Linked DNA regions of Homo sapiens: region 1 is linked to region 2. The links come from fine-mapping of genetic effects on gene expression. A gene starts in region 2. The other region holds a variant in brackets. All regions are shown on one strand. Distances are from middle to middle.

Region 1 (11,205 bases), 180 kb after region 2:
GTCCAGATGTACATGTATGTTAACAAAAATAAGGAATGTGTCCGATATATGCAGACTTGGGACAATTCTTTCCCATTCTTTTTACTTTTAAATAGATATATAATAGTTTTATTGAGATATGATTCATGTACCATACAATTCACCCATTGAAAGTGTACAGTTAGGGCCGGATGTGGTGGCTCATGCCTGTAATCCCAGCACTTTGGGAGGCCAAGGCAGGCAGATTGCTTGAGCGCAGGTGTTCGAGACCAGCCTGGACAAAATGGCAAGACTCTGTCTCTACTAAAAATACAAAAAAAAAAAAAAAAAAAAGCCAGGCGTGGTGGTGCACACCTGTGGTCCCAGCTACTTGGGAGGCTAAGGTGGGAGGATTGCTTATCCCTGGGAGGCAGGGCTTGCAGTAAACATTCTCCTGCCTCAGCCTCCTGAGTAGCTGGGATTACAGGTGCTCGCCATCACGCTCACCTAATTCCCGCCCCCCAGCCCAAGGAGTCTTGCTCTGTCACCCAGACTGGAGGGCAGTGATGCGATCTCAGCTCACTGAACCTCTGCCTCCCAGTTTCAGGAGATTCTCCTGCCTCAGTCTCCCAAGTAGCTGGGATTACAGGCATGTGGCACCATGCCCAGCTAATTTTTGTATTTTTAGTAGAGATGGGGTTTCACCATGTTGGCCAGGCTGGTCTTGAACTCCTGACCTCATGATCCGCCCGCCTTGGCCTCCCAAAGTGCTGGGATTACAGGTGTGAGCCACTGCGCCTGGCCAATTTTTGTATTTTTTATAGAGATGTGGTCTCACTATGTTGCCCAGGCTAGTTTCAAACTACTGGGCTCAAGTGATCCTCCTGCCTCACCTCCCAAAGTGCTGGGATTACAGGCATGAGCTACCGGGTCTGGCGTATTACCCAATTGTTTTATTTACTTTCTCTTGATTGCTAGTAAGGTTGAGCCTCTTATGGTTTATTGTCTGTATTCATGTTGCCTGTGAATTACCTGTTTGTTTCCTTTGTTCCTTTTTCTTTTAAGTTATTTGTCTTTTTCTTCTTGATTTGTAGGTCTTTATTCTAGATAGTAAACCTTTTGTCATTTAAATATATTATAGGTATTTTCAATATGTTACTTGTTTTTTTAACTTATCTTTCATTGCATAGAAGTCTTTAATTTTTATGAGGTTAGGTTTATCACTCTTGTCCTTTATTAAAACTTTTAGGTTTTGTGTCTTTCATAGGAAGCCCTTCCTCATTTTAAAATTAGAAAATATTCTGGCCAGGCGTGGTGGCTCATTCCTATAATCCCAGCCTTTGGAAGGCTGAGGCAGGTGGATCACCTGAGGTCAGGAGTTCAAGACTGGCCTGGCCAACATGATGAAACCCCGTCTCTACTAAAAATACAAAAAATTAGCCAGGCATGGTCGTGGGCACCTGTAATCCCAGCTACTCACAAGGCTGAGGCAGGAGAATTGCTTAAACCTAGGAGGTGGAGGTTGCAGTGAGCTGAGATTGCACCACTGCACTCCAGCCTGGGCAACAAGAGTGAAACTCTGTCTCAAAAATAATAAAATAAAATAAAATAAAATAAAATATTCTGTATTTTCTTTAAATACTTAAGTTTTTTTTTAGTTTGTATAGTTCTTTAATACATCTGAACTTTATTTTATAAGATAACAGTTTGACGCTATGTTTTTTTCTACATGGAAATTTTCCCAAGGCCATTTACTGAGGCCATCCTTTCCCCACTAATTTAAAATAGGGTGAGAACCTTTTAATGGATTTTGGTACCAAGTGAGAAACTGCTTTCTTAAAAAGAATGAACTAGTTTATGCAAACTGACATGGGCAATGTGTATCTGCCCATTTCACTGCAGCCTTGCGAGTATTAGTATGGTTGTTGTATTGATTGTAATTTAAGTTAATTTAAATTACAACTTAATTTGTGTTTATATTGATACAAAGTTATTTTCATTTCTCAGTGATATAAATAATGGTATATGGAATACTTTATTGAATAGAATCAATGCCAAAACACCTGGTATTATAGAAAGCCTTAAAAAATGACTAGGGGCAGGCGTGGTGGTTCATGCCTGGAATCCCAACATTTTGGGAGGTCAGGGTAGCAGGATGGCTTGAGCCCAGGAGTTTGAGTCCAGCCCGGGCAATACAGTGATACCCTGTCTCTACAAAAAAATTTTTTTAAATTAGCCAGGTAGGTGGCACACACTTGTAGCCCTGCCTACTCAGGAGACTGAGGTGGGAGGATCACTTGAGCCTAGGAGGTTGAGGCTCCCGTGAGCTGGGATCGTGCCACTGCACTCCAACCTGCACGACAAAGTGAGACCCCATCTCAAAAAAATAAAGAAAGAAAGAAAATACAAGAAAAGGGCCGGGCACGGTGGCTCACGCCTGTAATCCCAGCACTTTGGGAGGCCAAGGCGGGCGGATCACGAGGTCAGGAGATCAAGACCATCCTGGCTACCACAGTGAAACCCCGTCTCTACTAAAAATACAAAAAATTAGCTGGGCCTGGTGGTGGGCACCTGTAGTCCCAGCTACTCGGGAGACTGAGGCAGGAGAATGGTGTGAACCCGGGAGGCGGAGCTTGCAGTGAGCCGAGATTGCGCCACTGCACTCCAGCCTGGGTGATAGAGCGAGACTCCGCCTCAAAAAAAAAAAAAGAAAATACAAGAAAAGAAGCGTGAAGACAGAGGCTCCCGCGTCACCTCTCATTTTCTTCCATTTTCTCTTCTGTGCCTTTCACAGGATCTTCTGCAGGACAACTGGTCCTTATCACAGCCAGGGTGACCACAGAAAGGACTGCAGGAACCTGCCTATATTTTAGTGCTGTTCCAGGAATCCTACCCTCCAGCCAGCCACCCATATCCTGCTCAGAGGAGGGGGCTGGAAATGCCACCCTGAGCCCTAGAATGGGTGAGGAATGTGTTAGTGTCTGGAGCCATGAAGGCCTTGTGCTGACCAAGCTGCTCACCTCGGTAAGAGCCTCAGATGGGTCGCCAGGGTTTTGTAGACTGCCTGCTGACTACTGTATCTTGAAGGTCCCTGGAAACAATTCTACCTTGTAGAAAAAGCACAGGTTTTATAACCCTGCCTTGGGGGCTGTGTGACGTAGAACAAGTGTCTAAACATCTCTGAGTGTCAGCATCCTCATCTGTAAAACAGAAAACATGACCCTATCTCTTAATTCCATCAAATAAGGATTAAATGAGAATGACCGTGAAGTGCCCAGCACATTGCCTGGGACATAGAGATTTGATAAGTGACAGCTATTGTTGTTTACTATTGTCTTTAAAACATTCTCTCTACTTCAAAGGAGTTCAGAAGCTATAATAAGAGGCAAATGGGCTAATTGCTATTAGAGAGATGTGAGCAAAGTGTTATGCAAACACAGAGAAAGGAGCCATTAACCCTAACTTGAACATTTATGGAGAGTGCATCACAGAGAAGGTGGCATTTACCAGAGAGCATTGTGCACAGTGGTTTATAATGCACAAAGTGCTCTCAGGGTTCATTAATTCATTTGATCTTAAAATAGCCTTTTGAGGTAGGTGTTATTATCCCATTTTACAGATGAGGAAACAGGTTTAGAGAAAGGGAGTGAATTGCTGCAGGCCACACAACTGGTTAAGTGGCAGAGCCAGGGTTGCAACCCACACCTTCTGTCAAGTCAGAATGATCCTTGAAGAATGAGGAAGATTTGGACAGGGACTGCAGTAGAGGAGGTTCAGGAGAGGGGGAGGTACACTCCAGGCAAAGGCACCAGCATGCGCACAGGCCTAGAGATTGAAAAGTGTTCAGCCAGGTGTCACATCTGTAATCCCAGCACTTTGGAAGGCCGAAGCAAGGAGAATGCCTGAGGCCAGGAGTTCCAGACCAGCCTGGAGAACATAGCAAGACCTCGTTTCTTTTTCGCTTTTTTTTTTTTTTTTTTTTTTGAGACGGAGTCTCACTCTGTTACCCAGGCTGGGGTGCAGTGGCACAATCTCGGCTCACTGCAAGCTCCACCTCACAGGTTCATGCCATTCTCCTGCCTCAGGCTCCCGAGTAGCTGGGACTACAGGCGCCTGCCACCATGCCCGGCTAATTTTTGTATTTTTAGTAGAGACAGGGTTTCACCTTGTTAGCCAGGATGATCTCAATCTCCTGACCTCGTGATCCACCCACCTCAGCCTCCCAAAGTGCTGGGATTACAGGTGTGAGCCACTGCGCCTGGCGACCCCATTTCTTAAAAAAAACATTTTTTTTTTTAATTAGCAGGGTGTGGTGGTACACACCTATAGTCCCAGCTACTCAGGAGGCTGAGGTGGGAGGATCCTTTGATCCCAGGAGTTTGAGGCTGCAGTGAGCCATGATTGTGCCACTGCACTCCAGCCTGGTTGCCAGAGTGAGACCCTGTCTCAAGAAGGAAAAAAAAAGAAAGTGTTCAGCCTTTGGGAGCACTCCATGTTGAGAGGCTTAGGAAGGAGAAAAGGCAAGAGAGACCACAGGGATTTGATGGAGAGGCTCTGTGAATGCAGGATAGAGGGCTATGACCTGATGCTGAAGGCCGTGGGGGCCACTGAGGAGTTTTAAGGAGGAGAGAGATGTGCTTCCCTGGTGCTGGGTGGAGAATGGCTGAGTGGAGGAGGGCCATCAGTCAGGAGGCTGCTGCACACTCCACTCTCACATTTGAAAATACCCCATGAGGCACGGTGGCTCACGCCTGTAATCCCAGCACTTTGGGAGGCCAAGGCCGGTGGATCACTTGAGGTCAGGACCAGCCTGGCCAACATGGTGAAACCCCATCTCTACTAAAAATTTAAAAATTAGCTGGATGTTGTGGCGGGCGTCTGTGATCCCAGCTACTCAGGAGGCTGAGGCAGGAGAATCTCTGGAACCTGGGAGGCAGAGGTTGTAGTGAGCTGAGATCATGCCACTGCACTCCAGCCTGGGCAACAGAGTGAGACTCCGTCTCAAATAAAGAAAAAAAGAAAAGACCCCATGAGGAGCACAACCTGGGACTTGGAATCAGAGATCTGGTTTCCAGATCTAGCACTGCTTGCACTTTTTTTTTTTTTTTTTTTGAGATGGAGTCTTGCTCTATCGCCCAGGCGGGAGTGCAGTGGCGCAATCTCAGCTTACTGCAAGCTCCGCCTCCCAGGTTCACGCCATTCTCCTGCCTCAGCCTCCCAAGTAGCTGGGACTACAGGCGCCCGCCACCATGCCCGGCTAAGTTTTTGTATTTTTAGTAGAGATGGGGTTTCACTGTGTTAGCCAGGATGGTCTCAATCTCCTGACCTCGTGATCCACCCACCTCGGCCTCTCAAAGTGCTGGGATTACAGGTGTGAGCCACCGCACCCAGCCACTTATACATCTTTAAACTGTGGATCATAATGAAGTTTCCTATCTCATGGAGTTATGATGGGGTTTCAGGTTGATAATTGGGCAAGAAAGTAGTTTTTAAACCATCAAGACAAATGTTCGAGCCTGGGCAACATGGTGAAACCCCATCTCTACAAAAAAACACACAAAAAATTAGCTGGGCGTGGTGGCACACACCTGTGGTCCCAGCTACTCAGGAGGCTGAGGTGGGAAGATCGCTGGAGCCCAGGAGGCGGAGGTTGCAGTGAGCCGAGATTGCACTACTGCACTCCAGCCTGAGTTACAGAGTGAGACCCTGCCTCAAAAAGAAAAAAAAAAAAAAGGGCCAGGCGCGGTGTTTCACGCCTGTAATCCCAGCACTTTGGGAGGCCGAGGTGGGCGGATCATGAGGTCAGGAGATCAAGACCATCCTGGCTAACACGGTGAAACCCCGTCTCTACTAAAAATACAAAAAATGAGCCAGGCGTGGTGGCGGGCACCTGTAGTCCCAGCTACTTGGGAGGCTGAGGCAGGAGAATGGCGTGAACCCAGGAGGCGGAGCTTGCAGTGAGCTGAGATCGCGCCACTGCACTCTAGCCTGGGCGACAGAGCAAGACTCCATCTCAAAAAAAAAAAAAAAAGACAAATGTCAGCTTATATGAAAATAACATTTTCCCTTCAGTTGCTCCCTAGATGTGGAGAGCCCTCTCCCTCATGGAGGCTCCTTCTATAGCCCTTGGACTGGATTAACATGTCCTCCTCCTCCTCTCCCTGTACCCCTCCCTAGGAGGAGCTGGCTCTGTGTGGCTCCAGGCTGCTGGTCTTGGGCTCCTTCCTGCTTCTCTTCTGTGGCCTTCTCTGCTGTGTCACTGCTATGTGCTTCCACCCGCGCCGGGAGTCCCACTGGTCTAGAACCCGGCTCTGAGGGCACTGGCCTAGTTCCCGACTTGTTTCTCAGGTGAGGTTCTTTGCTCCAGTCCTGCGGGAGCAGGGAATGGGGTGGGGGTGGGGGTTGTAACCGGGGTAGAGCAGATCCTTGGACTTTTCCTCAAAGACTGCTGCTTCTGAGTCCCCGAGAACCTCTTCAACCACAGCTCTCCCTTAGGGACTGGGAACAATTTGACACCGTCAGCATTCAATATTTTTCTAATTACTTTAACTTTTTTATTATAAAATAGTTAACACTTATGTAGAAAAGTCCAATAGTATAAAAGGACAGCTTGGCAAATTATTATAAAGTGGATACTTATAAATACCACTGAGTAGAATATTACCAGCTGTCCAGAAACCCCCCATGGTCCCTTCCTTCCTGACAATGCCCTCTCTCTCCCTAGAAATTACTGTCCTGCTTTATAATGTATTGCCATGTATGTATTCCTAAATAATATAGTTTGGTTTTACTTATTTTTGAAACTATGTAGACAGAATCATACACATTCTTTTGTGGCTGACTTCTTTCAAGCAACATTGTGATTTTAAGACTCATAACTAGTTCACATCCAAGCATTTGGGTAACAATGGTGAGTTAAGAGGGTTCACATTTGATGATTTGTCCTGAATATGAACCATGTTTGTCTTGCTTTTGTCCTGAAATTCCAATACCCAGTTTTATGATGGAAATTTTGTAAAATTCAACTTGAACCGCTCAGAAGAGTCTAACTGATGATACTCATTTACTGGGGACATAGTATGTGCCCAAGAACTTGACATGCACCTTCTGTCTTCCATTTAGTCATCGTTACCTTTAGAAAAAGCTGATTCCGTTAACAAGATCTTTGGAGGGAATCAGCTTCACAAACGTAGCAGTGGGTGGGGGTCATGTTGGTTAACCAGTTCACACATCAGCTCACTAAAGGAAAAAATATTTCTGCAAAAAATCTTCACTTGTCAGAGGGGGGTGCATGAAATTTGAGAGCCATGTGTTATGCATCCAGCTCTTGAACTGGTCTCAGCTTCAGCTGGCTGCAGTGCCCTAGGAAGTTACTATGGGAA[A/G]AGTGGAAATAGTTGAGGCCCAGGGAACTGATCAGGCCAGAGGAAGTGGAAGCTCAAGATCAACTGTGCTTATTTTGCTGATGGCTGGGCCTAAATGCCCCAACCACCTACTTGGGACAGGAAATGACAGGACCCTCTCAACCTTGGACTGGGAAAGGAGGGCTTCCTGGCCCCTGACAGACCCTGGGGTCCTGAGGCTACCTTAGTTGGGATTAAATGCCCGTATTGGTCTCTAGCTGTCACTCCCTCTGCTCCTTCCTCAATTTCTGCACACATCTCAGAGCTTCCTCTAGCAGCTCTTCGACCTGTTTTGTTGTTTTATTTTCTTTCTCCCCAGGTGTGAATCAACTTCTTGGGCCTTGGCTCTGAGTTGGAAAAGGTTTTAGAAAAAGTGAAGAGCTGGAATGTGGGGGAAAATAAAAAGCTTTTTTGCCCAGTGGCGTGTATGGTGTTTATTGGGGGTTGGATTGAGGTGGGGATTTTAGGGTAGGCAGGCTTAGAAGTTTTGGGGGACTCTTTCCTGTTGACTCTCTAGTTTGGACACAGGTTGGCATAGGGCATAGGTTACTTGAGCTCTCCCCATGGTTGACTTGGCTTTGGTAAACACCTGTCTTGTTTTCTTCTACGAAATAAAATGGATAATTACAGTTAGTTGGGCGGGTGGGGTGTCAGGTCATGGAAATGCTGTGACATAAATGCACTGTGACCTTGGCAAGTCTTGCAACCTGCAGCGCCTCAATTTCCGTAAGAGATTTGACCGATTGAGTTTTCCCAGCGTCGACGCGCAAAGATTCCTCGCACTTGGAGGCCCTTTTCCAGGTTAGATGGTTGCTAACCTCGGAGCAGTCTATTTTCCCGCCTTTTCCGCGCCCAGCAGCAGCTTCCTTTGCCCCTCCCAACTTCCACCCTGCGCGCAGTCGCAGATCGCCGCTGCTGTCCGTCCACCCGCGCCCCCTCAAAGCTTCCCCTAGCAACAAGCTCGGGCTCAGAGCGAAGGCGGGGCGAGCGCATGCGCTGCAGCTCTGTCCACCGCCAGTCGTGGGACAGAGTGCCGGGCTCCTCCCCTTGCAAGTCTAGCTCTTCTCCCCGCCTCCTCCGGCCTGGGGTCCGCGTGGCGGGGCGGGCGCGCACTCGGGCTTGGCGGCTGCCGGTCTCCCAGGCCGCGGCAGTGAGGAGAGAGGGCGGGGCTGAGTCCTCTGCGCCCCCGCCCCCTTTAGCCCGGCGTCCCTACCGCGCCTGCGCGCTCCCGCCCGGTCTCCATCTTGGAATTGGGAGGAAGAGGGAGAGGGAGACCGGGACGAGACCGGGGCTGTGGTGCGGAGAGAGGCTGAGACGGAGAAGAGGAGAGGCAGAGAGGGCGCGGGGACCGTCAGCAGCACCTTAGCTACAATCGTTCAGCTATTCTCGGAAGAGAGAAGGGAGAGGGAGGAGGCCGGGGCGGGAGTGGGGGCTGTCACCCTCGGACCCCGGCGTGAGAGGGGCCGTGCGGCCGGACGTCCTCGGGGTGGGCCCCCAGTCGGTGGCCGAAGACCTACAGCTCAGGCCCCTGGGTCCCAAATTTCCAGGCTTTGCCCCTCCTCCTTTCTCAGATACCCGGGTAACAGTCCTCATAGTCCAGATATCCGGGACTCGGGTCCCAACCTCTCTAAACCTGGGTCTCTGTTTCATAGAATTTCAAATATCAGGTTCAGGCCCCTGCGTGCACCAGTATCCGGGGTTCATTCCCCGGGCGTTCAAATATCGGATTCAGTCTCCATCCCGTTCAGATATTCGGGGTTCAGACCCCACAATCAGAAATCCGGAATTCGGCAGCTGTCGCCCTCGACGAGGGGGAGGACTGGACCGCGAGGTCAGATTAGGTTGTCACCCCCTCCCCTCCAGGGGAGGCTTCCCGGGCCCGCCCCTCAGGAAGGGCGAAAGCCGAGGAAGAGGTGGCAAGGGGAAAGGTCTCCTTGCCCCTCTCCCTGCTTGGCAGAGCCGCTGGAGGACCCCAGGCGGAAGCGGAGGCGCTGGGGCACCATAGTGACCCCTACCAGGTGAGACACGGGGTGCAGGGGCGCGGGTCCCTGTGTCTAGTTCTGAGAAGAAAGGGTGCGCCTTTCTGAGAAGCTGGACTTGGGTAGGCCCTCTCAGGATGGGGAAGCCCAGCTGAGCGAGTGGTCAGCCTCTGGCTAGCCTTGCCTTCTGTTGCCACCCCCTTCCCCTTCCTCTTCCCTTCATTGTGTCTGGTTGGTGGGGGACCTCAGGTGACAGGGTCTCTGATGTCACCGGCGTTCACACCCTAGGGTGCTTCAGCTAATCAGATGGATTTGCACTTCAGTCTTCTCTCCTTCACTTTGCCCCTCACAGCCACCTCTCCTCCCTGATATGTCCCGTTCTCCTGGCTATTCTGTGGTTTTGATTCCCATGCCTCTGATTCCCATGGTGGGTCTGCTTATCTGCTTTTCAGGCCTGGTCTGGTTGGATTTCTTGTCCTTGCAAGGAAGTGTGTGTATATGTGTTTGTGTGTATGCGTGTGTGTGTGTGCTTGGAGGTGCCTGGCAATGTTTTCCCCCAGCTGCAGTTACCTTCCAACCTCTTGCTGTGATGGTGTCAATAATCTCATCCATTTGTCAAACGATCTGTCTTTTACAAAGTGCTTTGACAGCCATTCTCTCATGTGACATCCCCGCATTCACCCTGTGGGGGCCTCTTTTATTGGCATCTTCCCATTTTACAGTTGAGAACGTTGAGGCCGAGAGAGGTTGCCCAAGGTCACACAGTGGCAGAACCAGAATTTGAACTCAAGTCCTCAATCACATCTTTCCCTGATGCATGCCTGGTTCTTGCCATCTCTTTTCCTCTGAGTTTGGGCTCGGCCAGGGGTCCCTAGGAGTCCAGGCTGGGGTGAGGTTTAAGAATGGGGATGAGATGAGCTTCCTTTCCAGGAGGGCTCTACTCAGAAGCTTTTCCTGATGGGAGCCTCTGGCTTTTGCCTCTGCCTCATGGAGTTTTCTATCCACTGTGACCTTCATCTTTACCCCAATCCCAGGGTTTGGCCTGGATTCCTGAGAGGGCTCTCTCCTGACAAATGGTAGCACTAGTGGCATCTTTTAACTGTTCAAGCCAAGCTGTTGGGGTAGAATGATCCCCCAAAGGATTAAAGCTTTGTGGGGACCTTGGAGGCAGGGAAGGAAAAATCCATATGCTGAGTGTCTGCATGGTGTTCCTAAGTATGAGATCTCATTAAAATCTTAACAACAGCTCCATGCTGTAATCCATTTCACTGAAGAGAAGACCAAGAACTGGAAGGAACTTATTTAAAGCCCTGTTGCTGTACATTGCAGACGGGATGTACTGGTAGCATAGCTTAGGAACAGATAGATACGGGTTTCCTCATCTGTAGAATGGAGATAACATTGTTCGTTTTGGAAGGTGGTTATGATTTAGCACAGACCTTGGTTATTGTTCAAGTGTTTGTTGTTATTATGGGGAAGGGGACCTGCATGATGTTTTGCCAGTGGGTGGCACCCCTCCGTGTGGCCTAGGTTAGCATTCTGGGGCCTTGTGTTGGTAAAGAGGTCAGGAAGATTCCTTTGGCAAGTTGAGAGCACCTGCCTTTGTGTGTGGGTGTGTGGTGCTGGTGAGGGGTGCTTGGCACTGTTGCTGGCAGAAGGGAGAAAAGGGCCGGCTTTGAGCAACCTGCGAGCTGCTGAGGGCTGAGCAGAGAGCAATCACTCAGTCTCCCAGGCTATTCTGAGCCCTCTGCACCCTGGGGGCCCACTGGAGAGTCAGGCTCCCTCCTTGCCCTCCAGCTTCCAGTTGGGCTGAGACAAAATTAACAACACAACAGGAAACAATGCATGACAGAATAAATTACATGCTA
Region 2 (11,205 bases):
TCCTGACCTCGTGATCTGCCCGCCTCGGCCTCCCAAAGTGCTGGGATTACAGGCATGAGCCACCGCGCCAGGCCTAGACCCACTAATTATCTTTTATGGCACAAACTCTATGTTTTACTTTTGCCCAGGCTGGAATACAATAGCGGCATGATCTCCGCTCACCACAACCTAGCCTCCTGGGCTCAAGTGATCCTCCCACCTCAACTTCCCAAGTAGCTGGGAGTACAGGCATGCGCCACCACACTTGGCTAATTTTAAAATGTTTTGTAGAGAAGGGTCTCACTAGGTTGCCCAGACTGGTCTTGGACTCCTAGACCCAAGCTATCCTCCCACCTTAGCCTCCCAAAGTGCTGGGATTACAGGAATGAGCCACTACATCTGACCTCCTTTGCTTCTTTTAAAGACATAGTTTGGAATTTTTTTTTTTTTTTTTTTTTTTGAGACAGAGTCTCACTCTGTCGCCCAGGCTGGAGTGCAGTGGCGCCATCTCGGCTCACTGCAAGCTCCGCCTCCTGGGTTCACGCCATCCTTCTGCCTCAGCCTCCCGAGTAGCTGGGACTACAGGCGCCCGCCCCACACCTGGCTAATTTTTTGTATTTTTAGTAGAGACGGGGTTTCACCGTGTTAGCCAGGATGGTCTCAATCTCCTGACCTTGTGATCCGCCCATCTCGGCCTCCTAAAGTGCTGGGATTACAGGCGTGAGCCATCGTGAGCAGCCTTTTTTTGAGGAGTCTCCAACTGTCACCCAGGCTGGAGTGCAGTGGTGCCATCTCGGCTCACTGCAAGCTCTGCCTCCCGAGTTAACGCCATTCTCCTGCCTCAGCCTTCCGAGTAGCTGGAACTACAGGCACCCGCCACCACGCCCAGCTAGTTTTTTGTATTTTTAGTAGAGACGGGGTTTCACCGTGTTAGTCAGGATGGCCTCGATCTCCTGACCTCATGATCTGCCTGCCTCAGCCTCCCAAAGTGCTGAGATTACAGGCGTGAGCCACTGCACCCGGCCTGGAAGTTATTTTTTAAAAATCAATTGTTTCTTTCTCTGTCATCCCAGCAGGAGTGCACAGGCATGACCTCAGCTCACTGCAACCTCCACTTCCTGGGTTCAAGCGATCCTCCTGCCTCAGTCTCCCAAGTAGCTGGGACTATAGGCACATGCCACCACATCTGGCTAATTTTTTTTCTTTCAGATGGAGTCTTGCTCTGTCCCTCAGGCTGGAGTGCAGTGGTGCAATCTCAGCTCACTGCAACCTCCAACTCCTGTGTTCAAGTGATTCTCCTGCCTCAGCCTCCTGAATAGCTGGGATTACAGGTGTGTGCCACCACGCCGGGGTAATTTTTGTGTCTTTAGTAGAGACAGGGTTTCCCCATGTTGGCCAGGCTAGTGTCAAACTCCTGACTTCAGGTGATCTGCCCGCCTCAGCCTCCCAAAGTGTTGAGATTACAGGCATGAGCCACCACGCCTGGCCAAACCACCCTAATTTCTACCAGCCAGATGCAGATCCTTAAAACAACCCTAGGAGGTATTTCAACCATTATTCCCTTTTAATATCTGAGGAAATGGAGGCACAAAGAGGCTAAATCTCTGGTCTGGGCAGCCTGGCACCAAGGCCCTGTACCTAAATGGTTTATTCAAACATAGAAGCCCTATCTCCTTGATCTATGCTCTTTTCACTATTTCTGGCAGGTTTCTTACCAAATATCTGGAGTTGACAACAAATGTGAAAACTGAACAGCCTTTTCTGACAGGCAAGGAAGACCAAACTGCCAATTGCCAATGTCAGATGTTCTCAAAGTATGGTCCAGAGACTTCTGGGAGTCCCTGAGACACTTTCAGTGGGTCTACAAGTTCAAAACTATTTTCATAATAAAACTAAGATACCAATTGACTTCTCTTGCATTGTTTCTCAAGTATATAGTGGAGTATTCAAAATACTATATTATATGTGACATCACAACAGCATGAATGCAGAAGCAGATATGAGAATCTAGTTTTTTTGTGTGTCTTTGAGACAAGGTCTCCCTCTGTCACTGAAGCCAGAGTGCAGTGGCACCATCACGGCTCACTGCAGCCTCAAACTCCTGGGCTTAAGCAATCCTCCCACCTCAGCCTCCCAAGTAGCTGGGAATATAGGTGTGTGCCACCATGCCTGGCTAATTTTATTTTTTAAGAGATGGAGGTAGGCCAGGCACAGTGGCTCACGCCTGTAATCCCAGCACTTTGGGAGGCCGAGGCGGGTGGATCACGAGGTCAGGATATCAAGACCATCCTGGCTAACACGGTGAAACCCCGTCTCTACTAAAAATACAAAAAATTAGCCGGGCGTGGTGGCAGGTGCCTGTAGTCCCAGCTACTCGGGAGGCTGAGGCAGAAGAGTGGCGTGAACCCGGGAGGTGGAGCTTGCAGTGAGCCGAGATGGCGCCACTGCACTCCGGCCTGGGCCACAGAGCGAGACTCCGTCTCAAAAAAAAAAAGAGATGGAGGTCTAGGCAGGGCTTGGTAGCTCACGTCTGTAATCCCAGCACTTTGGGAGGCCGAGGCGGATGGATCACCTGAGGTCATGAGTTCAAGACCAGCCTGACCAACATGGAGAAACCCCGTCTCTACTAAAAACACAAAATCAGCCATGCACGGTGGTGCATGCCTGTAATCCCAGCTACTCGGGAGGCTGAGGCAGGAGAATTGCTTGAACCCAGGAGGCGGAGGTTACGGTGAGCTGAGATTGCGCCACTGCACTCCAGCCTGAGCAACAGAGAGAGACTATGTCTCAAAAAAAAAAAGTGCACACCTCTCTGGTTTTTAGTATGTTTATTACGTTACGCAGCCATCATCACTACTTCATTCCAAAATATTTAATATTTCCATCACCCCCAAAAGAAACTCGTTATATCTATTGCTGTAGTGCCAGCTCCTCAGCCCCTCACCATCCCCTGGCAACCACTACTTAGATGTCCTTTTTATGTCTATGGGTTTTTTACTGTAATTTTTAAATTCATTAATGTCAACTTTAATTTAGTTTCACTTCACACACAGTATATACGGCCAGGCCTGGTGGTTCACACCTGTAATCCCAGCACTTTGGGAGGCCAAGGCGGGTGGATCACTTGAGGTCAGGAGTTTGAGACCAGCCTGGCCAACATGGTGAAACCCTGTCTCCATAAAAATACAAAAATTAGCTGAGCGTGGTGGTGCACACCTGTAATCCCAGCTACTCGGGAGGCTGAGGCAGGAGAATCACTTGAACCCAAGAGGCAGAGGTTGGAGTGAACCGAGATTGAGCCACTGCACTCTAGCCTGGGAGATGGAAGTGAAACCCCGTCTCAAAAACAAAAAAACAAAAACCCTCATATACACAAAACATCTTTGGAGGCCTCATTTTTAAAAACTGTAGTGGGATCCCAAGGCAAAACGTTTCAGAAACACTGATCTAAGATTTGTGTTTTTTGTTTTGAGACGGAGTCTCACTCTGGCGCCGTGGCTGGAGTGCGGTGGCACCATCTCGGCTCATTGCAACCTACACCTCCCGGGTTCAAGCGATTCTCCTGCCTCAGCCTCCCGAGTAGCTAGGACTACAGGCGTGCCACCATCCCCGGCTAATTTTTGTGTTTTTAGTAGAGACGGGGTTTCGCCATGTTGGCCAGGCTGGTCTCGAGCTCCTCACCTCAGGTGAGCCTCCCGCCTCAGCCTCCCAAAGTGCTGGGATTACAGGACTGAGCCACCGCGCCCGGCCCGTGTTTTGTTTTGTTGTTCAACAGGGTGGAACATAATGTCTAAACCTGGGCCCTACCTACCTGGTGCTCAAAAGTGGAATGACCGTCCCTAGCCAACCCTTCAGAAAGGACAGAGAGCTACTCAACGGACTGCTGTACTCTTAAGGACTGGGAACCGGAACCGTGGGTGAGTGGGACTGAATCACAGACTAAGCGTTTTCCACGCTTCGCCGACGTGCTGAGTGCCAAGTTATAAAGACAGGAACATCCAAGCTGCTCTCCTGGGCTGACACGGACGCGAGGGGACCTACAGTGGCCTTGGGCCCAGCAGGCAGCGACTGCAACGTGACTGCCCAGAGTCCAGCCCCTGGGGCCCAGATCTACAGAACCGACCAGACGTGATAGCCCTTTGGCTGGGGCTGCAGTCCCACGATCCACACAACGACCCTGGCTCCGCAGACGCGCCAACCACCCACGGAGGCAAGAAACTGCAGAAAGTAAAGGGAAAGGGAGCCCAGTGCCGGGCGGCGCTGAGCAGCTCCCCCAGCGGCCACCGTCGCCAACATCCCTGCGTAGGGGTTTGTATCGCAGCGCGCTTCCAGACATCAACGGCTGCGCGGCCCACGCGCGCGCATGCGTCCTGACCAGGGGAACCTTTTCTTGGGGACCCGGAGGCGAGCGCTGGAAGGCGGGATAGTGGCGACCCACACGCAGCAGCTTCCGGCGGCGCGTAGTCTTGATTGGTGGAACCTGGGAGAGGGGGCGGGGCACCGGGGAATTCGAATGGGAGAGGCGGGCCCAAGGAGGGAGTGGAATGGCCGCGGGCGGCTCGACGCAGCAGAGGCGACGCGAGATGGCGGCAGCTTCAGCGGCGGCGATCTCAGGTACTTGAGCCCGGCCTGGGCAAGGCGGGTACCGACGTCTGGAGTTTAGTGGGAGTTATGTGTCGGAGTGTGGTCCAGGCTCTGCGGGTTGTCGCGGAGAGGCGGCCATGGCGCAGGGGCGGGGAGAGGGGGACGGTGAGAGTGTGGGGTCGCGAGCCGGTCGCCCCGCCTGGCTCCTGCCTTCTCCCTGTTTCCTGCTCTCCCCTTGGGTCAGTAGACTCGGGTCTCCGGTCCAGGCTCTTGGCTTGAACCCCGCGCACTTTTTCTTTGTGAGCTTCGGTTTCTTCGTCTGTGAAACGGGGGTCATGGCCTCATCCCTGGAGATCACCTGAATAAGCAAGAGAAGAGTGGCGGACGCTCTAGCCACGAGGACGAGAAGAAGGGAGCCGGAGGCGTGTATTGGGAAGGGTTCTGTGTGGGACATGGTGTTTGGGTGCAGAGACATCCCTGAGAGATGCAAGAGGACGGGCTGAGGAACAGACCCGGCTGCTGCTGGGTTTGAGTTGGCAGCGTAAGATGCTCTGCGATTACAGGAAAACGAAATAAAAGACTAAAATTTCCTTTCACTCTAGCATGGAAGTGAATGCTATTTTAGGGTTGGAAAGGCTGTTAGGACACCCAAAATCTTGTATGTGAGTATTTGTTTACATGTGCCTCTCTAACCCGGAGACTTAATCCTCGTTAGTGATGATGGTGAGCGCCATAGTAATTCACTGGAGCCCTCGTTAGCCTCGTGGGGAAACAGACATTTAGGAGAATGCCTAACACATGTAGAGCTCTTGCTATGTGCCAGGCACAGTTGTAGGCATTTTATGGTGGTGAACCATTTATTGTCCACACAATGCTATCAGGTTGTTACTATTACTGTCTTTGTTTTACACAGGAAACTGAGGTTAGTTTGTTCAGAGTTAACACAACTAGTAAATATTGGGGCTTGAATTCGCTCTCAAGGAGTCTGAGTGTAGAACCTCTGCTCTTAACCATTATGCCCAAGTACATGTTATCCCTGCTGGCTGAGCACAGTCTCCCCTTACCCTTCGAAGATGCACTGTGTCCGGTGCATGGTAGATATGAAAATGCCTGAATGAATAATGTCCCTTCCTCGAGGAATTTACAGTCTGTTTCAATAGAGTGTCACATACGTAGATGTAATACGAAACACAATGAGAGATGTGTATAAACTGAGGGTGTGGAATCTGAAGTAAGCCCTTGAGTATTCTGGGAGGACTTCATTAAGGGAGTGAATGATACTTGAGATGGGTTTCAAAGGTTGGATAGGAGTTTGCCAGGCCTTGACTAAGAAGACAAGAACAGCAAGTGTTTTCTTATTTATGATGTAAGATGCTCTCTTAGCTCAATTTCCTCATCAATAAAAGGGAGAAGAGTGAATGAAATTTAGGAATTGTGAAAGAAGGGAAAATTAATAATTGCTAGCCTGGTCCAAGCTCAAGGTTGCTTTTATCATGAAAGGGCTAGACTCTTGTGCAGTAAATAATTGTTTACATGTGGCCCTCCCCTCTTCCCTCCTACCCTGGACTGTGAGCCCTGGGGCAGGAATGGCCGTGAGCCATTTTCATGATGGAAATGAACAAGCCAGTGATTAGTAGTTTATTCACTAAATCTTAATTTTTTTCAGCAAATACTTCTTGAGGGCCTACTCTGCGCCAGGTGTTGGGGTTAGAAAGGTGAGCAGGATAAAACTTGTTCTCACAGTTGGCAGTCAGGTGGAGAAAGTGACAAACACGCAATAGTGGGGTGTGACAAATGCTTATGGAGGGGCTAACATGAGCTGTGGTTGCACCTGATAAAGCCTTAGTGTCTACCAGGAAAGGGTTTTTGGTTTTGTTTTTTAAGAGGAGTTAAAATGTGTTTACCTTAGTCACTCCAGGGTGGGGTGGGGAGCAATGCAGATATTCTAGGGAGAGAGATTAACGTGGACAAAAATCCAAAGGTGCAAGAGAACTTGGAGTTTTGTAGGAAGTGAAGGAAATTCATCATGACTGGTAACTTACACTGCAAGGAAGGAAACAGAGGGAATGACTAGAGGGCAGGGAGACACCTTGCTACCACCAGCAAGGAAGGCTGTAAAGACCATGACCTTGGGCAGAGGTAGTGCAGTGGGAGTGGAGAGAAGTGGACTTGTTCAAGAGAGATTTAAAGAGATAGACTTGACAGATGTTAATGATGAACTGATGTGGGAGGTAAGAGACGTTGGAGTTAAAGACTCCCACTTTTGGGGTTGGTGCCATTCATTTACATCAGAGATCAAAGGAGGAGGCTGCAGAGAGATGGGGAAGGAGGGTTCAGTTTAGGACAGGTGGAGTTTAAGAGGAGCCGTCGGCTGGGCTCACGCCTGTAATCCCAGCATTTTGGGAGACCAAGGTGGGTGGATCACGAGGTCAAGAGATCGAGACCATCTTGGCCAACATGGTGAAACCCTGTCTCTAAAATTAATCAAAAATTAGCTGGGCGTGGTGGCGTGCACCTGTAGTCCCAGCTATTCGGGAGGCTGAGGCAGGAGAATCGCTTGAACCGGGAGGCGGAGATTGCAGTGAGCCAAGAGCGCCACTGCACTCCAGCCTGGCGACAGTGAGATTCTGTCTCAAAAAAAAGGAGCCGTCAGGGCAGCCGTTCAGAACGTGGGCTGCAGTTGAGAGCTCTTGTGCAGAACGTGCAATAGGACTTATCAGCTGTAAGATGTTACTGAAGCCAAGAGGGCGGGTGACCTGCCTATGAAATGAATCTGAGTGGTCTCAGCTCGGGGCAACTTTGTCCCTCACAGGACATTTGGAGATGTCTGGAGAGATTTTTAGTTGTTACAACTTGAGGGTGAGGGTGGAGAATGCTACTGGCATCTAGTAAGCATATGCTAACAGTCTAAATGCACAGGACAGCCCCACAACGGAATTAGCCAGCCCGAAATGTCAGTAGTGCTGAAGTTGAGAAATGCTGGTCTAGAGAAAGGATAGACGGATCCTAGGATGAGGAGTGAACAGAAAACTAGGTAAGACAACCAGGAAGGTGGGGGGCATGGAAATGAAGGGAAAAGTGTGTTTCCCAAGAGTGTCGCATACTTCTGGGAGGTCCAACAGGATTGAGGCTGAGTATGCCTACTGGATCTAGCACTAGGGAAGTCATGGGTGACCCTGCTGAATAGTGAGGGCAGAAGCAAGTTGCAGGGATGGAGGAGTGGGTAGCAAGAGAAAGGGTGTAATAATAACAGCTAAGGACTGAGCAGTTGCTGCCAGGCACTGTGCTAAACATTGTATGTACATTATTACTTTGAATCCTCACATTCTTATGAGATGCAAAGATGAAGGGGCTAAGGAGGCTGAGGAGGGTTCATATAAAGCACTTTGGAGTTAGATCTTCATTTGAAGCTGTCAGTCACTAGCTGTTGACCCTGGGTCAGTCAGCTAACCCCTCTATACTGAGGTTTCCTCATCTGGAAAATGGGAGACGGACATTAAAAAGCACTTACTGGCCTTTCACCAAATACCAGATAATGTTCTAAGCACTTTTACATGAATCACCTTAATTACTCTCCTAACAACCTAACAAAGAGGTATTTTTATTCCCATTTTGCAGGTAAGGAAATTGAGGCACTGGGATGGAAAATAATTTCCCTAGGTTACTTAGCTAGCTGTAAATGGCAGAGCTGGGATTTCAACCCAGGCCATTTTACCTTGAATGATGAACCTACCTACTATGTGCTAGTCACTGTGCTGCCACTTTATCTGGCACTTATTTCAATTATCTTTTTTTTTTCTGAGACACAGTCTTGCTCTGTCACCCAGGCTGGAGTGCAGTGGCGCAATCTCTGCTCACTGCAACCTCCACTTCCCGCATTCAAGCAATTCTTGTGCCTCAGCCTCCCAAGTAGCTGGGATTACAGGCGTCCACCACCATACCTGACTAATTTTTGTATTTTTAGTAGAGGCAGGGTTTCACCACCACGCTGGTCTCGAACTCCTGACCTCAGGTGATCTGCCCACCTTGGCCTCCCAAAGCGCTGGGATTACAGGCATGAACCACTGCGCCCGGCCAAATTCTCAAAAAGCCCAAGGCCCACCCCCAACCTTATTTTACAGACAAGGAAACCAAGGTCCAAGGTCACAAGCTAATAAATGTCAGAGCTGGAATTGAAGTCCACTTCTGTCTGACCAGAGTCTACACTCTACCTCATTACTGACTTCCCCTTCCCCTTAGATTGATCACTGCGCTTCCTTAAGTGCTTCTACATCTGCCATCTTTCTGTTCTCCCAAAACATCCTGTGAAAGCAGGCAGAGGAAGGTCCTGCACATATTTTTGACAAGTCAGTGCACCTCAGTTTTCTATCTGCACACATGCATCTGCAGGTTTTTACCTGCTTGCTCCTGACTTTCAGGATTGCCATGAGGAACAAATGAGAACTAGATGTCCAAGCGCTTTGCTACCATAACGTGAGAAATGGTATTAGTAGCCCCATTTATCAGATGATGGAATGGAGGTTCAGTTTTTGAAACAGCCCGTCTGCTTATGGGCATGCCTTACTTAGGTGTAAGATTCTTTGTAGGGGTCATCTGTCTGCCTTTTCGTCTTGCTGTTTCTGTGTTGGCTACGTATACCAGCCAGCCTTTTGCCTTCTGCGAGGCCTATGGCTCCTAGCAACCAGCTGCTACCACCAGCAAGGAAGGGAAAGAGCTGCCAGGAGCTTTCCCAGTTGGTACATAATAAGGAAGCAATACAGCATCCTATTAAAAGCAGATTTTTAGAGGGGAAGAGATCTAGGTTTGAATTCCACTATGAGCTACAGTATGTTATCCTCCAACGTAAAATAGAGTAATACTCTCCTTAGATATTTTCAGCTCATTTAACCCCCACAAAAATAGAGGGCTTTTCTTTTTTTAAGTTTTATCTTCATTGTGTTTTCTGATGATAAAAATAATTCAGTTGCCAATTCTAAAACAAAACAAAACAAAAAAAACTTAATCATCTGAAGCAAATTCAGGGTTAAGTTTACATGAGAGAAGAATTGCATGTCGGTGGTTTTTGCAGAACCCACATAATTCCCCATCAAGAGAAGATCATCATTAACAGTTTGCAGGGGTGGGTGGGTCTGTGAGTATACATACGTCTCAATACATATTAGAAACCCCAGTTAAGAAATGGAGGTACAGGCTGGGCAGGGTGGCTCACACCTATAATCCTAGCACTTTGGGAGGCCAAGGCAGGCAGATCACTTGAGGTCAGGAATTTGAGACCAGCCTGGCCAACATGGTGAAACCCTGTTTCTACTGAAGATACAAAAACTAGCCAGGAGTGGTGTTGGGGACCTGTAATCCCAGCTACTCGAGAGGCTGAGGTGGGAGGATCGCTTGAACCTGGGAGGTGGAGGTTGCAGTGAGCTGAGATCATGCCACTGCACTCCAGCCTGGGTGACAGAGCAAGACTGTCTCAAAAAAAAAAAAAAAAACACACACACACACACACACAGAAAATTCTGGCAGTTCGCTCTCTGGTTTAGGTTTCGGTCAGATGTCAACCCTTTTAATCCTTAGAACAACCCTGTGAGGTGCTGGTCTACTTCACCCTTGGCAATTCAAAACATGTCCTGGGCCAGGCATGGTGGCTCCTGCCTATAATTCCAGCACTTTGGGAGGCTGAGGTAGGAGGATCGCTGGAGCCCAGGAGTTGAAGACAAGCCTGGGTAACCTAGTGAGACTCCATCCCTCTCTCTCTCTTTTTTTTTTTTAAGTGCCCAGCATCACCTGGGAGCTTGTTAGAAATGCAAAATCTCGGGCATCACCCCAGGGAGACGGAGACCAAATCCACATTTTCACAAGATCCTCCAGGTTATTTGTGTATACATTACAGTCTGAGAAGCCTGCTATACACCTGCTGCACTTGCTTGTAGAGCAGGGAAGGCACTGAGGCCAAGCTTAGGGGTGTCCACAACATGACCAGGGCAGAATGAGCTTCTCCAACATGAGCTGTGGCCCCCAGCCCGCCCAGCAAAGTTGGTCCCTGCTTCTTCTGCTACCACCATACTTCATGTCTAAAAGTGATCTTCTCTCCTCCAGGAGCTGGTCGCTGTCGGCTAAGCAAGATTGGAGCTACTCGTCGTCCACCTCCAGCTCGCGTAAGGGTGGCTGTGCGACTGCGGCCATTTGTGGATGGAACAGCGGGAGCAAGTGATCCCCCCTGTGTGCGGGGCATGGACAGCTGCTCTCTAGAGATTGCTAACTGGAGGAACCACCAGGAGACTCTCAAATACCAGTAAGGTTCAGGCCACTCCTCTTCCCTCATGCCATCACCTCCCTCTCCTAGGCCTGCCCACGTTCCCCTGCCTCCCCAGGATCCTTGCTCCCTCCTTAGCACCGCTTTGTTCCCTGAGCCTTCACTGTTCACTTAGGAAATGTTGACAGGTGCCCCCATGATGGGCCCTCTCTGGGATACTGTAGGGAGAGATGAGAGGTTGAATCAAACATACATTACTGTGCACAGAGAGGGAGGAGCAATGAGGGTGAGCAGGTGAGCCCCAAGTAGAGGCTGGGGGACATATCAGGAGGGTTGGCGGAACACAGACCTGCCAGCCAGCCTACCCAAGCTGCAGCTGGGTAGTGTCAGAG

The links.
Region 1: its variant is fine-mapped to the expression of KIF22 in tibial artery (GTEx, PIP 0.99).

What each region holds. Positions count from the first base shown.
Region 1 is chr16:29,965,273-29,976,477 of GRCh38, forward strand. TMEM219 (transmembrane protein 219) reads left to right here. Exons shown (of 6, transcript NM_001083613.2): 4 at 2,753-2,982; 5 at 6,136-6,306; 6 at 7,678-7,776. The coding sequence ends at 6,273. TAOK2 (TAO kinase 2) reads left to right here and starts at 8,596. Exons shown (of 16, transcript NM_016151.4): 1 at 8,596-9,376. It overlaps LOC124903762, which reads left to right and starts at 8,350. Exons shown (of 2, transcript XM_047435036.1): 1 at 8,350-8,508; 2 at 8,725-9,363. The coding sequence starts at 8,350. The coding sequence ends at 9,363. RefSeq lists a silencer at 8,286-8,655 and enhancers at 9,079-9,850, 9,557-9,686, 10,488-10,989, 10,990-11,205. The variant A/G (reference allele first, on the strand shown) is at 7,341.
Region 2 is chr16:29,786,237-29,797,441 of GRCh38, forward strand. KIF22 (kinesin family member 22) reads left to right here and starts at 4,515. Exons shown (of 14, transcript NM_007317.3): 1 at 4,515-4,593; 2 at 10,657-10,852. The coding sequence starts at 4,524. It overlaps LOC105371167 (a long non-coding RNA gene), which reads left to right and starts at 1,277. Exons shown (of 2, transcript XR_950983.1): 1 at 1,277-1,310; 2 at 1,686-1,887. RefSeq lists an enhancer at 3,926-4,325.